2 separate regions of the Homo sapiens genome follow, and region 1 is linked to region 2. Evidence: fine-mapped expression QTL. A gene starts in region 2. The other region holds a variant in brackets. All regions are shown on one strand. Distances are from middle to middle. Region 1 overlaps RFTN2 (raftlin family member 2). Region 2 holds the start of MOB4 (MOB family member 4, phocein).

Region 1 (4,394 bases), 100 kb before region 2:
TCGGGAGGCCGAGGCTGGCGGATCACTCGCGGTTAGGAGCTGGAGACCAGCCCGGCCAACACAGCGAATCCCCGTCTCCACCAAAAAAATACGAAAACCAGTCAGGCGTGGCGGCGCGCGCCTGCAATCGCAGGCACTCGGCAAGCTGAGGCAGGAGAATCAGGCAGGGAGGTTGCAGTGAGCCGAGATGGCAGCAGTACCGTCCAGCTTCGGCTGGGCATCAGAGGGAGACCGTGGAAAGAGAGGGAGAGGGAGACCGTGGGGAGAGGGAGAGGGAGAGGGAGAGGGGGAGGGGGAGGGGGCAACAAATGTTTTTTAATTGAAATGTTTTTCCTTCAGTTTCCTATATGAGTTATTTAAGGATTTAGATGGTTTTATGAGCCACTTAGTATTTACAACCCTTCTTAATTGTACCCTCTTCCTCACAGGGGAACATTTGCCTAAATCTTTGGAAGGATTTTTTATCTATGAAGAAGAAGGTTCTGGAGTTCCAGGTTCTAGTAGGAAAGGAAATGATGCCATCGTAGTAGAACAATGGACTGTTATTGAGGTGAGCTGCAGTTTTCTGACAATTTAGCTTTACATATATAAATATAATATATAATATATATATATGTTTGGTTTGGGTTTTTCATTTGTTTGTTTGTTTGTTTTTGTTTTTGTTTTTTTGAGTCAGGGCCTTACTCTGTTACCCAGGCTGGAGTGCAGTGGCACCATCACAGCTCACTGCAGCCTCAACTTCCCCTGGCTCAGGTGATTCTCCAACCTCAGCCTCCCAGGTAGCTGGGACTACAGGCCTGCACCACCATACTCATCTAATTTTTTTGTATTTTTTGTAGAGACAGGGTCTCGCCATGTTGCCCAGGCTATATATATTTTATTTTACATGTTAAAGATCTTCAGTGCCTGGCACATGCAGTATCCTTAAACACATATTTGTTTAGTGTTTAGAATCTCATTACAAATGCATGAACAAACTTCTTTCGGATTTGTGAAAAGGTAATTTGCTTTATCCAGTGTTAAATGTTTTTGCAAGATAGAGAAATAATTAACTATGCATAAGCAGCAGTAAGTTCCCAAAAATTTTAAGCCAAAAAACATCGCCTGGCACTGAGCTTCTCTTTACAGCATTCTGTGACAACTGATTGAAAGAAAAAAATTTGGTCACTCAACTAGTGTTTTATCTCCAATCAACCAATGTGACTGAGGTTTTTTTTAACCTTATGAATGACTTTCAAAGGCAAAAATATCCAAAAGATGTTCTCTCTCTCGCCAGGCCAAATATGTACACACAGCATTGTCCTTCACAAACAGAGATGACATTGCTGCTGATGTTGTGCACCCTGAATTCAGATGTCACTGAATGGACTGTCTTTGAGGTGTACACACTGAATTCAGGTATATTCTGTTTTGTGTTTGAGGCCCTCCCTGACAGGCTGTTTCAGGGATACTTTTACCTTTCTGACCTTACACAGGTTAAAGAGACATAGCCCATTTTCAAAGAAACTAGAAAACCCATTGAGTGGGGAAAAAGGATTTGAGGAAAGAGGTAGAGCTCTTAGCAAAACTCAATTCCAAATTAAGAAAAAAGCAGTGAAAAGACTCCCCACACCCAAGCGCCTCTCATCTTCAATACCACTATTGTCACTCTCCACTCTTGTCCTCACTTCCTGGTCCCTAGACCCATGTTTCTGAAATGTGTTCTAGAAACTTCTTGGATCCAAATCCGCTAAGGAACTCGTGTTAAAATGCAGCCTCTGCCTGACACAGTGGCTCACGTCTGTAACCCCAGCACTTTAGGAAGGTGAAATGGGAGGATAACTTGAGCCCGGGAGTTCAAGACCAGCCTGGGCAACATAGTGAGACCCCATCTCTACAAAAAATTTTAAAATTAACCAGGCATAGTGTCATGCACCTGTAGTCCCAGTTACTCAGGC[G/A]GCAGAGGCAGGAGAATAGTTTGAGCCCAGGAGATTGAGGTTAAAGTGAGTTATGACTGTGCCACTGCACCCTAGCCTGGATGTAGGAATGAGACCCTCTCTTTAAAATAAAATAAAATAAAATAAAATAAAATAAAATAAAATGCAGATTCCCAGCTCCCCAACCCCATGTATTAAATTTCGAGAACCACTGCCCTAACAAGACCAAAGGAAGGCCCAAACTTCAGACAACGGGATGGAAACCTCTCTCCATTACTAGTGTTTCTAACTTGGTTCAATTATCAGAAGGAAGCAGAGCAGAACATGAAGCCCAGGAAGGCTGCAGCGGATGAAAGTGAACTCCCCTCATCCTAACACGCATCACCCTTTGTTGTAATTGTGTAGTTGGTTGTCTTTGCCATTAGACTATGAGCTCTTATACTTATTCATGCAGGGATGTGAAATCAAAACAGATTATGGCCCTCTGCTGCACACTCTGGCTGAATTCGGATGGCTTCTGACAAGCGTGTTGCCCACACCTGTATTGAGACATGACAGGTAAGGCAAAAGTATCCTTACATACTATCATTTAATTCTAATATATAACTTCATCTGTTAGATAGTTCAATTCAACAAATATTTGTTTAATGCCTACAGAAAACATTACACTGAGCTTCGAATTTGATTTTATGGACCTTAGAGGTTAGTAAATATAGTCCTTGGCATTATAGATGTATAAGCTGTTAGGCTCTGCAGCACATATCCAAAACTGTTCTCACCCCAGCCCACAGCCAGGTTTAGGACACAGTAGGGTTCCAGAGTGAGCAGGATGGAGGAGCGCTTCTGCCACCTCCCCTCCAGTGTGGTGAGTTAGTTCCCCTTGGCACATGGACTTGGTAGCTGTTTCCATTAAAATAAATGCCTACATTAGAACCAAATGCCAATATTTTGTAAGTACTAACTTTCCTTTTCCTTTTCTCCTTTTACTAACTTTCCTGGAAAGGAAAAATTGAATCTTACTTTTTTGAGAGAGGGAAACAGAGACCAAGTAAGTCATTATGTAAAATGCTTTGCTATTCCTGGGACCCAGAGATGTGTCCTCTGCCCGCTTTGGCATCCAGGAAATGACTGACTGCTAAGGCTGTCCTGCCTGGGCAGGTGACTACCTGCAGAGGACAGCACAGTACCAACTAGGCCTTCCCTTTTAGCAGAGTCAATTATGGTTCAACATTCTGAGTGATTTGCAGGTGTGACTAAGGAAAGCAACTTCCCCTTCCTTAGTCTAACCCACTTCACTCACCTTTTCTGGCCTTCCCGGTTTAGCAACTTAGCCCTGTCCAGTATCCCAGTACCCCACAACATTTAAAAACCTTTGATTGGCATGGCTTTATCTGAAAAGCCACACCTTCTTCGGGTAGGGAAAGGAATTAAGGTGGATATAAAGTAAAGAAACTCAAGTTTAAAGAACAAAAAAGGAATGTTTGAAGTAAGCAAAGCAATTAATCTACTTTTCTTCCCAGAGCTCTATAGTAACTGTTCTCAAATTGAGTGATGACTCCTTGAAGCATGATTTCCCAGCCTTTTGTACTCTGTGACATATCTGTCAAATAACAGAATAGTAATAATTCTCAAGATTCAGTCTTCACAAAACAGGAGAATTCCATGACACCCCCGCCCTCAACCTTGCAGGATGTGTGACAGGGGTGTGGCTTGTTTGTTCACCCTCTGCATGCTCAAACCACTTACAGGAGGGGAAGCACACAGATGGGCAGGTGCAGGAGCTGGGGTGAGTGCTGTGGGGCTCCGGCCCCATGGTAGCGTCTAGGGGTGGGTGCCTGTGACTCCCAAAGCCCAAGTAGGCATGTGTTACAGTGATCTTTTAGTTTTGCCATCTGCAGAGGGCTTAAGTGTTAACCAGCTCAGTGTCCTCTCAGTACCTAGGTCCTTGTCCAGCGTCCAGGAAGAACCAAGTTGCACAGGGAATTGAGGACAGTGATTGTGCAGGTTTTATTGAGGGTAGAGGTGGGATGCAGTGGGAAGATGATCATCTTCCGGAGTTTGACCGTCCAGCAGCCGATCTCCTCTCCAACCATCTCCAGCCAAACTCTTCTCAGCATTCAGATGCTCCTTCTCTTATCTCTGCCACGCCATTCTGAATTTTAAATTTTAAAAATCAAATTTAAAAGGCAAAAAGTCAATCAATAAATAAAAATATGTGGAAGCTGTACATGGTTTCTGGCCCTGAAGGATCTTGTGAGCTGGTTAAGCTTACGTTTCATATGTACAAAACAAGGGACTTACATTCTGGTCAGGGCAGATCAAGCTTATGTATTGTGTAATATAATACAGTAACTAATCAAGGGCTAGATGAGGTGTCTTAGTCTATAGGTTCTGTAGGAATATTAAAAAGAAGAGACATTTTAAACTGTCAAAGTTGGATGGGATCATCAAATACTAAAGAGATTAGAGGGCAGCATC
Region 2 (4,394 bases):
CTAGCCTGGGCGACAGAACGAGACTCTGCCTCACACACAAAAAAAAAAAACCTCCAGGTGCAATGGCTCACGCCTGTAATCCCACCATTTTGGGAGGCCCAGGCGGGCAGATCACCTGAGGTCAGGAGTTCGAGACCAGCCTGGTTAACATGGTGAAACCCAGTTTCTGCAAAAAATTAGCTGGGCGTGGTGGCACGCGCCTGTAATCCCAGCTACTCGGGAGGCTGAGGCAGAAGAATCGCTTGAACTCGGGAGGTGGAGGTTGCAGTGAGCCGAGATCGCACCATTGCACTCCAGCTTGGGGGCAACAAGAGAGAAACTCTGTCTCAAGAAAAAAACAAAAAAAAGAAAGAAAGAAAGAAAAAGAAAAAAGAAAACCAACTATGTGCCTATATTCCAGTCTAACCAACTTTTTTTTTAATGTAGGAAGATACTCCACCTACTCTCCTATAGTTTTTTGTTTGTTTGTTTGAGACCGAGTTTTGCTCTTGTTACCCAGGCTGGAGTGCAATGGCGCGATTCCGGCTCACTGCAACCTCCGCCTCCCGGGTTCAAGCGATTCTCCTGCCTCAGCCTACCGAGTGGCTGGGATTACAGGCGCCCGCCACCACGCCCAGCTAATTTTTTGTATTTTTAGTAGAGACGGGGTTTCACCGTGTTGGCCAGGCTGGTCTTGAACTCCTGAACTCAGATGATCCGCCTGCCTCCACCTCCCAAAGTGCTGGGATTACAGGCGTGAGCCACCGCACCCAGCCCTCTATTATAGTTTTTAATTTTTTTTCTTTTGACCCAATAGGGAAGGAGATACGGTTCTAAATATATCATTTTAGAACAGATCCATTTCACTAAACGAAATTCATGTGATAAACAAGATAGGACAAACTACGGCGTAAGCAGTCTTTTTCATTTTTTATCCTTTTTCTGTTATATTTTATCTAACAACCTTGATCCATGACAATGTGAAAAAAAAAGACAATAAGTTTTCTTCTATGTGACTTACAGCAACATAGCAAGTATGTTACGATATTAAATATTTTATTTTCTAACCTTTCAAAATTAAGAACTTATGAATAAATGAGATGACTCTCAGAATATGAACAGAAAAGTCTACTTCTGAACATAAAAATGTAATCAGAAACAATGTTTCCACAGAATAAGATGTAAAGGTATCTGAGAAAAGAGCATGAGGAAGAAAAGTGTGGAAACGGTAAAAAGCAAGCATATGTAACGGATAAATTTCCAGTAGTATGAAAACAAAACTGTCAGTAGGAATAACTGACAGCTTAATGTGACTCCAAAATAAGACTTTAAAATTTTCTCTGAAATTCAGCACTAGAAGCAGCTTGTTAAAGAGAACAGGTCACCAGTGAATTAAGAATCAGGAGACTATGTATCCTTGGGCAAATCCACTTAATTCTCTTGGGCTTCAGTTTCCTTATCTGTAACATGAATCTGGGGAGGTAATCAATACCTGTATGCCCCCTTCGAAAGGTGTTCTTTCCATAATTCTGTATAAGAAATTAAAATCTATTCTCAGACATACAATCATAGCTCCACGATTGTTTTGTTTCAATTTTCATTTGCATCACTTTTTAACATTTTATAAACACATCTCTTCCGATTTCAGAGCATCTAGTCTATAGCAAGCCATTTCGGCTAGCAATTAATCAGTTCAAGTCTGGATGCCAATTTTATTTATTTATTTTTAATGTGAGGCATCCCATCTTTTCCAAACCCTAAGAAACAATGCCTAATCAAGCACCAATTTACCACACATAATGCCCTACAAAAAAGCTGACAAAATTATAATCAGTTCATTCTCTGACTATGCTTCACGCATATTAGCAAGGAATGACATCTAACAAGTCACAACTTAGTGATGAAAACTTGCTGGACCAGAGAACAGCTCCAGGGAAAGCGGCAGGGAGAGGTGGTCAAAGGGAAACAAGGAGGAGAATATCGGCACCCGGATCCGGCTAGACAAGCTGGATGGCAGGAAACGGGTAGGTACTTCCCAGGCCAGGTAGGAACTGGACGCCGGGTCGAGGTAGGCTGTGTTTACACCCCCTCCCACCTCAGCGGCCCCGACCTTCAGGAAACCCCGGGGGTCTCCACCAGGCTGGTCGCGCCCCTCCAATGCTAGTCAGCTGGGGCTCAGGGGCAAGGCGAGAAGAAGCCGTTGCTGCTGACAGGCTCGCAGCCCAGGGCTTCGGCAGGCAGGTACCACCAGCAGACCCCACCCGCCCCTCACGCCTACCCCTGGGTCGGAGCTCCGCAGGCCTCACGGCGGCCGCCACCGCCTCAGCCAAATTGAGGGGCTGCAGCTCCGGAAGAGCAGGCCGGGCACCAGTGCCCCAGCCCGCCCGCCTGCCGCCTCGGCCCAACCTCCCCGCAGTGGCGGCCAGCTTCCGGGCGCAGCACTGCTCGGCACCTAGTTGCCCGACAAGAAAAGTGCAGACATGGTACCTGCGCCTTGGTGCCCGGCCTGTTCCGCCTCAGCACTGCCGTCCCCTCCGCCATGACCATAGTGCCAGCGTCTAGGCGGCTGGAGTCGGTACCCGGATGTAGGGACGGCAGCCTGCGCGGGGGGCGGGGCAGAGCGGCGCTCTGCGTCTGGGAGGAGGAGCGGCAGCTGACGGAACAGCTGCAGCCTGCGCCGGGAGCCGTCCGGGTAGAAGCGGGCTAGGCGGAGGGAGAGGGCGAACGAGGAACAGCCGGACGGCGTCGGGTGGCTACTGGCAGGGACTGAGGCACCGGAAGGCGGGCGCCACGAGCCTCTTTGCGAGGGCTGCGGGGCGGTTTGAAAGGTCGTGATCGCAGCGACCGCTGCGGCAGTGTGCACGGCTGCGTTGCACGTTGGTATGGGCTCTCGTTAGTTACACGGGAAGAACGAACTTCGTATAGTGGCGACCGTTTCAGTAAACCCACCTGCAAGCAAATACTTAGAGAACCGTAATTCTGTCCCAGAAGCCACCTAAGGAATCAGGGTAGAAAACAGGCCAGCAGTCTTGGCAAATTCTATAGAACCTGCGTGAAATCGACCCAATCTGAAATCAGACGGGGGATTTGAGTGTCAGTGTTATTTACGCCATCCGGCGACTTCAAAGCCAAGGACTTTTTCAATGACAAGTTTGTTTACGTAGATAAAAGACGCAGATGTCAATTATGTGAGATGAAGAGTGGACATCTGGTTTTGTGCGTTAGGCAGACAGATTTAGCTCGTGTTTTTCAAGTCAGAAGCAGGAGGAGGAAATTAGTAGTCCTTGACAGGTGGTGAGGGTTTTACATCTTACAGGATTCCACATTTCCTTTGTTGCAAATTTTAAGTGTTCTCTCTTAAGAAACCACAGCATTTTCGCAAACTTTTTTTCCTGCTTAGAAACCTTGAATCTTTTATCTGGGGTGAGGGAGGCCTTGGGATAGCAGATGGGAAGACAGTTCAAAAAGTAAAAAACGCATACAGTAGCATGATTTCCAAAAGAAGAAAACATCAAGTGTCCCTAGATAGAAGGTGTATTGAGAATGCTGAGGGAAGGGCCATGTAACAGCTTCCAGAAATGGAATTTGAGAGGAGAGGAGAGGTTGAGTGGGTCTCTAGCTGAGTAATTGTCAGTGACTTAGAACTAGGCATTGAAGGGTTTAACAACAGGAAGTTGGTTCTCTCTGGAAGATGTATTGACTGGTAACTCTTCAAGAATAGGGACTTAATTTTGCCCTCCCAGAACCAGCGTCTACATATGAAAAGATTATTCGTTCAACAGATACTCATTAAGCCCCACTATATGGTAGGCACTAATGTACAAGTATGATAAGGCTCAGTCCTTCACTACAAATTGCCTTGACTCCAGCAACAGAGACGTGCAAATCACAAATTCTTATACAGGTTAAGTACCCCTCATCTTAAAGTTTGGGACCAAAACACTTTCAGATTTCTGATTATTTTGGATTTTAGAATATTTGCATATACATAATGAGATTTCTTGGGGATGGAACCTAAGTTTAAATGTGAAATGCATTTGTTTCCTATACACCTTACACACATAGCCTGAAGTTACTTTTATACAATACTTTAAATAGGCCGGGAGCGGTGGCTCACACCTGTAATCCCAGCACTTTGGGAGGCTGAGGGGGGCAGATCACTTGAGGTCAGGAGTTCCAGACCAGCCTGGCCAACATGGTGAAATCCCATCACTACTAAAAATACAAAAATTAGCCAGGCGTGGCGGCAGGCGCCTATAAAACTTCAAATAATTTTGTGCGTGAAACAAAGTTTTGACTGCAACCGGTCACAGAAGGTCAGGTATGGAATTTTCCACCTGTGGCATCATGTGGATGTTCAAAGTTTCAGATTTGGGAGCATTTCAGATTCTGGACTTTTCAGATTATGGATGCTC

The links. PIP is the estimated chance that this variant, and not a neighbour inherited with it, causes the effect. A credible set is the group of variants that fine-mapping cannot tell apart.
Region 1: its variant is the best candidate, but not a certain one, in a credible set for the expression of MOB4 in whole blood (INTERVAL, PIP 0.54).

Annotation. Positions count from the first base shown.
Region 1 is chr2:197,613,956-197,618,349 of GRCh38, reverse strand. It overlaps RFTN2 (raftlin family member 2), which reads left to right. Exons shown (of 9, transcript NM_144629.3): 6 at 429-550; 7 at 2,371-2,474. Among named protein-coding and RNA genes, the nearest start is that of RFTN2, 59 kb to the left of the region's middle. The variant G/A (reference allele first, on the strand shown) is at 1,938.
Region 2 is chr2:197,514,219-197,518,612 of GRCh38, reverse strand. It overlaps MOB4 (MOB family member 4, phocein), which reads right to left and starts at 2,547. Exons shown (of 8, transcript NM_015387.5): 1 at 2,467-2,547. The coding sequence starts at 2,526. All of the region lies in intron 2 of HSPE1-MOB4 (HSPE1-MOB4 readthrough), which reads right to left. RefSeq lists a silencer at 2,489-2,708.